Linked DNA regions of Homo sapiens. The protein of the gene in region 2 purifies or fractionates together with the protein of the main gene of each other region. This does not show direct contact. Each region holds a gene or a part of one and is shown on either strand. Other genes may lie near its edges.

What was found.
Region 1: the proteins of SLC12A8 (region 2) and NUP210 purify together in Homo sapiens (affinity purification with mass spectrometry; one large-scale study listed by BioGRID and IntAct). This does not show direct contact.

What each region holds. Positions count from the first base shown.
Region 1 is NC_000003.12:13,318,884-13,323,027, forward strand, and holds part of NUP210 (nuclear pore membrane glycoprotein 210 precursor), read right to left. Parts: intron 3,457-4,144; coding exon 3,310-3,456; intron 2,953-3,309; coding exon 2,702-2,952; intron 1,097-2,701; coding exon 880-1,096; intron 443-879; coding exon 347-442; intron 273-346; coding exon 189-272; intron 1-188. UniProt on the Homo sapiens protein: Nucleoporin essential for nuclear pore assembly and fusion, nuclear pore spacing, as well as structural integrity.
Region 2 is NC_000003.12:125,086,701-125,091,114, forward strand, and holds part of SLC12A8 (solute carrier family 12 member 8), read right to left. Parts: intron 1,671-4,414; coding exon 1,610-1,670; intron 1-1,609. UniProt on the Homo sapiens protein: Cation/chloride cotransporter that may play a role in the control of keratinocyte proliferation.

The sequences.
Region 1 (4,144 bases), about 110 Mb from region 2:
TGAACCAGGACTGGCAGCCCCTCTGCCCCGACCCTCCTGGCTCCCACATCTGTCCTCTGGGCCTCAGGCTCCTTTGGCCCAGGCAAGGGCCTGTTGAGACTTAGGGTTCAGGAGCCTCGACCCCTCCCCCAGGGCTCTTCTCTTTCTCAGCAGCTCTGCCTGGTTGTGCCTGCAGGGGGGCTACTCACAGTGGGGGCTGTGTCCAGGGCTGGCTCGAGGCGTGAGGGCTGCAGGCACAGCAAGATCCCGGGGCGTGCAGACAGTGTGGTAGGCTGCAAGAGCACAGGGTTGGTTAGAGCAGGTCGGGGCAGGGGAACAGACCCAGAGATACAGGCAGCCTCCTCACCTATGATCATGACCGCTGTCCCAGCCAACAGGGCGAAGAGCGTGAAGAACATGACCTGGTAGGAATCCAGGAAGTGCTGGAAGAGGCTGGCTCCATCTGCCATCAATGGGAAGATGAGTTACCAAAACCACCAGGCCCACTGTGGCATCCCATCACGTTCCTGCCCTACTGTACGTCTACAGGGCAGTCCACAGGTCCCTCTTAGATGTAAGGATGGTGGTCTCAGAGGGCCAGGCCACCTGCTGGAGGCCCGGGCCCACAGCTGTTCTTGGTACCCTGGCACTTCTTCTCCTGGCGCAGGCTGCTGAGCAGAGGGGCACAGCCCCTGTGGCTGCCATGTTGAGAACAGATGGGAAAGCTGGGCAACTAAAGCCTGCATCATGGCCCCAATGAGCAGCGATCACTTTGAGGGACATTCTGCATTTCTGACTCCTCCATTTCTTACACCTCAGGTTTCTACTGATAGCCAGGACCACTCCTGCCTGTCCCTCCCCATCCTGGTCTGTCCCAGATGATGTCGTTCCGTGACTCACAAGGACCGGGCCCACGGCGATCCACCACAAAAGCCACTGTCACTGGGATGGCAATGGCTTGGTTGGTCACGGGGCTGGAGAAGGTCAGGGTAGTGGACAGAGGCCCTTGGCTGCCAGCCGCGGGGTCCAAGACGCCGACCGTGTATGTGATGAAGCTGGGCCACCCAAAAGACTTCTCCTTTGCGAATGCCAGCACGGCCGGGGACCCGGATTTCACCTGGAAGAGACATCAGAGCTGGGGGTGCACATTCTGCAGAGTGGGGGGACCACTGAGCGGGGCCTCAGGACCCCGAGGCGGGAGGGCTGCTCTGCATGGCCATCTCTGGAAGCACCCCCGCTTCAGCCTGACATGCTGGGCTTCCCTCCTGGGGCCCAAGGGTACAGGTGGGGACCCCTGCCCAGGTCACATCTCATGGGCAGGTAATGACACCTGGGCACTGCTCATGGACGGCGTGTACTCTGCAGAGTCGGGAAGCCCTGTCCATACTCAGGGTGTTTTTTGAGGGAAGGACAAATCAATATGAATGTCAGAATCAAATTCAAGCTCATTTAATTCTAATCAACTGCTGCTTACAAAAAGGCTAAACCAGGCTGGGCGCGGTTGCTCACGCCTGTAATCTCAACACTTTGGGAGGCTGAGGCGGGCAGATCATGAGGTCAGGAGATCGAGACCAGCCTGGCTAACACGGTGAGACCCTGTCTCTATTAAAAAAACAAAAAATTAGCCGGATGTGGTGGCAGGCGCCTGTAGTCCCAGCTACTCAGGAGGCAAGGGTGGGAGAATGGCATGAACCCGGGAGGTGGAGATTGCAGTGAGCCAAGATAGTGCCACTGCACTCCAACCTGGGCGACAGAGCGAGACTCCGTCTCAAAAAAAAAAAAAAAAAAACTTTGGGAGGCCAAAGTGGGCAGATCACAAGGTCAGGAGATCGAGACCATCCTGGCTAACATGGTGAAACCCCGTCTCTACTAAAAAAAAATTAGCCAGGTGTGGTGGCAGGCACCTATAGTCCCAGCTACTTGGGAGGCTGAGGTAGGAGAATGGCATGAACCTGGGAGGTAGAACTTGCAGTGAGCCCAGATTGCGCCACTGCACTCCAGCCTGGGCGACAGAGCAAGACTCCATCTCAAAAAAAAAAAAAAAGGCTAAACCAACATGAAGTATCACCAAGCACCAGCTCTCCAAGGTAGCAGCCCGAGCTCTGCTCACGCCGCCAGCGGGCTGGCCCTCCTCCCTCATCAGCGATGCTGAGCATTCCCTGCCTCTGCAGAACATGCGATCACGCTGGCTGCAGCAAGGCAGGAGGAGCAGGCGGAAATGCCGAGGAACTCCTTGGTTCTCTCACCCCCGAACTCTTCCCAGCCTGCCAGGCTCTGGGCCTGAGGGATCATTCACCCACCAATCCCACCCCGTGACTTAGTCATGGGGGAAGTGAGGCCTGGAGAGAGGGGACTTGTCCCAGCAGGGATTAGGGCTTTCCTCCCTGCTCTGTGGCAGATGCTCCTGCACTGAATTCTGCGATGCCACGCACCACACGCTCACTGGCACCTTTTCTGGGGTTCTCACTGCTGCCCCCACAAGCTTAACTTGTAGCTGGGGAAGACCAGCAGCGGTCAGAACAATTAATACAATCACGCAGCCTGAGAGACAGCAACAGTGCTATGGAAAAAGAAAAGAGTACTTCAATTTAAAAATTCTAATTGTAAAAATAAATTTTAAAGAGAGCTGGCCCAGGACATCCACACCACATTCCCTCTTCCTCCAGGGCCTTCCTGATGCCCCTGACTCCGGCCTGGCCTGAGGCATGCAGATGCCACTCACCTCCAAGTTCTCCAGAACCTCCGGGGCACCAAAGACCCTGATCTCGGAACTGGTGTAGTGGTTGCTCAAAAGGATTTCAGCCTGGTCGGCGAAGAGACCTGGGCTGAAGGGCACCTCGGCCCCCACCTGCTCTGTGGAGAAGTGGCTGCTGGAGAGGGAGGCACTGACCACCAGAGCTGTCTTCTTCATGCTCAGGTGCTTCCGCTGCTTGTCCGTCAGCCTGTGCATTGTGATTGAGCAGAAGTACTGGCCTGCGAAGACAAGGGTGTATTGTCTTGTCCCCTCTCCTGCCCGTGCACTGATGTCATTTCTTCTCCCTGCTTCTCTAACCAGGGGATTCCTATGCATCCTCCAAAGCCCAGGTGAGAAGTCACCTCCTCCAGGAGTCCTCCTGGGAATCCCCTATAAAGGCCTTGGCCAAGCTAGGATACCCTCTGTGACCAGCAGTCCTCCCAAGTCCCCCTGGCGTCAATCCCCAGGCTGGGCTCCTGACAATCTCTGCCCTCTGGACAGACGGCCATGGTGAGCTGGGCACGTGGAAGCCGCAAGATGCCCAGAAGACAGAGACTGTCTCCAAGTCCCTTTCACTTTCAAATCCTCGCAATTACCGAGAGCAGTGTCAAACTGTGGCTCCACGGTGAACACATCTTGAGATGGGAAATCAAAGACGGCCGGCTTGAACTGGGACTGGCAGCTGATGAGGGTCTCTGGGTGCAAGGCCTGGATGACTTCCCTCTGGGTGGGGGTGCACTCGCCTAGAGAGGGGAGAGACGAGAGGGTGTGGGCCAGGCCCGATGGCCACCACACCAAATTCCACCAGGCCTGCACAGGCTGGCTGGGCTGCAAATGCCACCTGCCCCTGCATGTCTTCCAGCAGGGCCCCAGGGCGGCTCAAAGCTTTGAGATGCAGCCAGGATTGGTAAAGCCAAGGACATATCATATGGAAGAGGATGCCATCGGCATCACAGGGAGCTTCAAGTCAGAATTTCAGCATTTGTTCCAGACCTTGCATCCAGGGGCACGGCAGACGGGCTAGGCCCACTAATGCCTGTCTTCTGTCCCTGTCAGCAGGGGAAACGGCAATTTACTTCTGCACATTCAGAGGGCACTAGTTCTCCACTAACATCTGAGCAGCATTTAGGCAACGGCACAGTGCTGTCCACTTGCGCTGAGGAAGGAGCAGAGGCTGCCATGATGGAACAGAGCTGCCTCGTTAATCAGGACGAGAAGGGCGGTGCTTCACTCTGCCAGTGAGGTGGTTTAAGAAAACAGCCCTGTTGACTTACTTATTTCTGGCAGCTGCTGTTCAGGGCTGTCATGGGCAGGGGATGGGGTTCAACATTCTATGCATGACCTGGGAGAGGTCATTACAAAAATTAAAACCAGTGACGAGTCCTGCTAATTCATTAGTTTCTGGGATTCACGGTGGGAAATTGTGGCTTT
Region 2 (4,414 bases):
CATCGGACAGGACAAGAGGCAGAAAGATCACTCACCCTCTCTGCAGCTCCACATGAGACATTGAGACCAGCTGGCCCAAGTAAGCAGATGACAGGGTGCTCCCCATGCACCCCAGCCTCCATCCCTGGGCCCTGTCCCTGCTGGTGTCTGTAGCCCTTGCTGCTGCTTCTTGTCATCCCAAGCTCCAGCACGAAGGCTTTATTTCTTGTGCCATCTTGAATAGATTGGCAATTATTTGTGAAGAGTTGTCTTAAATAGGATTCTTGGGAATGCAGAGTGTTTAATGGGCATGGTGATGATAGCACAGCAACGTGAATGTCCTTAATGCCACTGAACTGCACACTGCACGTAAACATGGCTAAGATGGTACATCTCACGTTACATGTATTTCACTTTTTTTTTTTTTTTTTTTGAGATGGAGTCTCACTTTGTCAACTAGACTGGAGTTCAGTGGCACGATCCCGGCTCACAGTAACCTCTGCCTCTCGGGTTCAAGCGATTCTCCTGCCTCAGCCTCCCTAGAAGTTGGAATTACAGGCACGCCACCATGCCCAACTAATTTTTGTAGTTTTAGTAGAGATGGGGTTTCACTATGTTAGCCAGGCTGGTCTTGAACTCCTGACCTCAGGTGATCTGCCCACCTTGGCCTCCCAAAGTGCTGAGATTACAGGCGTAAGCCACCACGCCCAGCCCTATTTTACCATAATTTTTAAAATGAGGAGAAAAAAGGATTATGAAGTTACATCTGGGATCAATGGGAAAGGATCCCATGATCCACTAGCAATGTCTGAACATGCAGGGTGGAAATATTAGCAAGTACAACCCGGACATCTAGAGTCTCAAAAACAAACCAACAAAATGCAACCAAATGAACACTCGGTTGGGTTCTGCCTGGATTTTCCTAGCCTGCAGCTCTAGCTCCTCACTGATATTGAAAGGGGACAGAGGGTGGGTGTAATTCCCCAGAATCCCAGGGCCTTAAAAGGTAAGAAGCAGTGATACTGCAAGAGTGGAGGAGAAGGAGTGAGATTAGGGCACATGTGAAATATACCCTCTCTATGAGGCTTCTATTTCTCAGGAAAGTTTTTTTTCTCCTTTCCTGTATATCTGACCATAGAGGTCCCACAGAAATCCTCCAGGATCTCCACTTTATTTCTATACTTGGCCTCTGCACTGTCCCCAACCCAGTCATGTCAACTACCTCTGACTCAGATGGAAGAATGTGCTTCCTGGCGTTACATTTCCCTTGGGCTTTAATCTTGTGTGTGATTATGCATTGATGTGAATGTGTCTTAGACTGTAAACTCACTGAGAGTAGTGACTTATCACCCCAGCAACCAGATTCTAAATAAAGCCTCTGTTCTTGATGACTGAGGATAAGAAGGGAAGAGGACATGAGCCTAGAGGAAGCTTCTGATGAGCCGAATCTGGGGGCCGAGTGTGGTGGAGTGCACGCAGGAGCAACATCTGAGTCTCCCGGAGGTGCCCAGTTGTTAGGTTCCCATGCCACAATCCAGGCCCAAGCCCAGCCAGGAATGGGACACCCTTGGCACCTCCCAGGACTCTGGACACTCATCCATTCTGGTACTGGCTCCAAATTGGCACAGACCTGCAGGAGGGGAGCAAGAGAGACCTCATCCACCGGAAAAAGCTGAAGTTGGAGGCTGATCCTGCAGGGAAGACATATACATAACCATTTTTGAAGGTTCTACATAAGGCATCTAGAAGCTCAGTTTTAATAGGGTGAATGCAAACCCCAATACACACACACGCACAGAATTAACACAAATGTTTTCCTTTTTCAGTCTAAACAAATAATTTTCATTGTAATCTTCCATGACAGCAGCCTACTAAGGACTTTTACTCATGTGAATCCTTCAAAAGTTTATTTCCAAACTCCAAAATCACTCCCAAAAAACTGGATAAAGTGCTATAAAGACAAATGCAGAGACTTGCTAACTTTAGTCTTAAGAATTAAAAAACTTTGATAAATTTTTTAAGATTCATACTGACAAGTGTTGAATACACGCCATAAAATTTTCTACTAGACCATACACTGAGAATTGGGAACATGTCTTTTTCATCCTTATAATCATCACAGTACCTCACAGGATCTGGCACTTAAGAATTTTTTTAACAGGTGTTAAGTGAATCAAATAGTTCCACATGTAGAAATGTTAGAGCTGAAGTTTGAAGTGACATTGTTGTTGATTCTAGCCAAATAATCCTGACATCAAACACACAGATTTGAATAGGGTTTATCAATTGAAAAAAATCCATTCCTCCTTTGGTGTAGGTTTAAAAAAATTCACATAGTAAATTATATATAACTTTAGAGAAACAAATCAAATGTGATTTTAGAAAATGCTTTCCTAAATTATACATACATATGATTGAAAATTGATTGATTAGATAATGTTCAATATATGATCAGGAAAATAGCATTATTTTAAGAGGCTTATGTTAAAATCTCCACAAATATCAACAGTATGCAGCTGATAACCTGTTTCCTCAATATCATTTAGGCCCTTATGGCTAAAGGGAAGATAAATTTTAGATCTGCATTTGCAATTGCAAAGAGAAGATTTCTAATACATTTTGAGATTGTCAGAAGGAAGAAAATAAACATATTTTATTAACTCACCCTACTTAAGTGTGATAATTTAGATTCTAAATTATTTGAATTTTAGATGGACATTGGCCTGAAATTTGATTTCATGTTTTCCTATGAATAGATTTCTAGGAAATAATTGAAATTTCTTAAGATCAAACTACTTTTTAAGAAATAAAGAAGCAATCACTGAAGTAATCACTGTTAATTAAAATATATTCTATCCATGAAGTCAGCTAACATAAGGACCTCTTCTTAACATTACTGTTTTCTAAATCATTATTTTTAATACACACGACTTAAAATGTTTGAAGTGCATTTCTTTCAAAGTGTTTGAAGTGCATCAGACTATTCTAATTCTGAAGAACCTTTTTCTCTTTTTTTTTTTTTTTTGTGAGTCGGAGTCTCACTCTGTTGCCCAGGCTGGAGTGCAATGGCTTGATCTCGGCTCACTGCAACCTCTGCCTACTGGGCTCTTACTTTGGGTTTAATTTGCTCTTCTTTTTCTAGTTTCTTAAGTTGGATGTTGGGATCACTGATTTGCAAATGATCTTCTTTTCTAACGTAAGCATTTGATGCTATAAATTTTCCTTAGCTACATCCCACAATTTTGCTGTTCCATTTTCACCTTTATTCAGTTCAAAATACTTTGTAATTTCACTCTGCTTTCTTCTTTGAATCATGGATTATTTATTTTCTGTATTTTAATTAGGGTTATGTAATATTCTTTAGTTTCTAAATATTTGGGGATTTTCTTTTCTTTTTTTAATTTTTAATTTAGGAGACAGAGTCTTGTTATTTTGCCCAGGCTGGCCTCAAACTCCTGGCCTCAAGCAATTCTCCTGCCTTAGCCCTCCAAGTAGCTAAGACAACAGGTGTGTGCGAACTGTGCCTGGCTTATTCAAGGATTTTCTGATATCTTTCTGTTATTTATTTCTAATTATTCCCCCTCTGGTCAGAGAGCATACTCTGTTCTTGAATTGACTTGAATACTTTTAAATTTATTGAAATATTTTTTATGTACTAGAATATAGTCTCTCCTGGTAAATGTTTCATGTATAATTGAAAAGAACATATATTCTGCTGTTTTGGGGTAGAATGTTCTCTAACTGTCAATTAAGCCAGGTTTGTTGATAGTGTTATTCAAGTCTTCTGTAGACTTACTGATTGTATACTTATTTATCAATTATTAGGAAGGAGGTATTGAAATCTCTGACTATGGTTGTGAACTTTTCTATTTCTTCCTGTAGTTCTATCAGGTTTTGGTTTGTGTATTTCAAAGCTGTGTTTTTAAGTGCATAAATGTTAAGCTTTGTTATGTCTTCCTGATGTATTTTTCCCTTCAGCTTCATGAAATCACCCTCTTTATCACTGTAATATTCTTTTCTCCAAACTCTACTTTGCCTAATGTTAATATAGCTACCCTGCTTTGTTTTTCATTAGTGTTAGCCTGATGTATCTTTTTCCTTCCTTTTACTTTTAACATGTTTGTGTCTTTACATATAAAGAAGGATTCTTGTAGGCAGCATATAGTTGGGTCATGCTTTTTCATTCAATCTGACAATCTTTGGCATTCAATTAGGGTGCTTAGACCACCCATATCTAGTGTGATTATTGATATGGCTGGGATTACATATACATAAACCATCTTGTTATTTGTTTTTTGTTTGTCTCATTTGTCCTTTATTATCTTTTTCTGCCTTATTTTGATTGAGTACTTTTTATCTCCTTTACTGGCTTAACTATAACTGTTGTGTTATCTTAGGTTGCTTTAGGGTTTATAGTATACATTTTAAACTTACC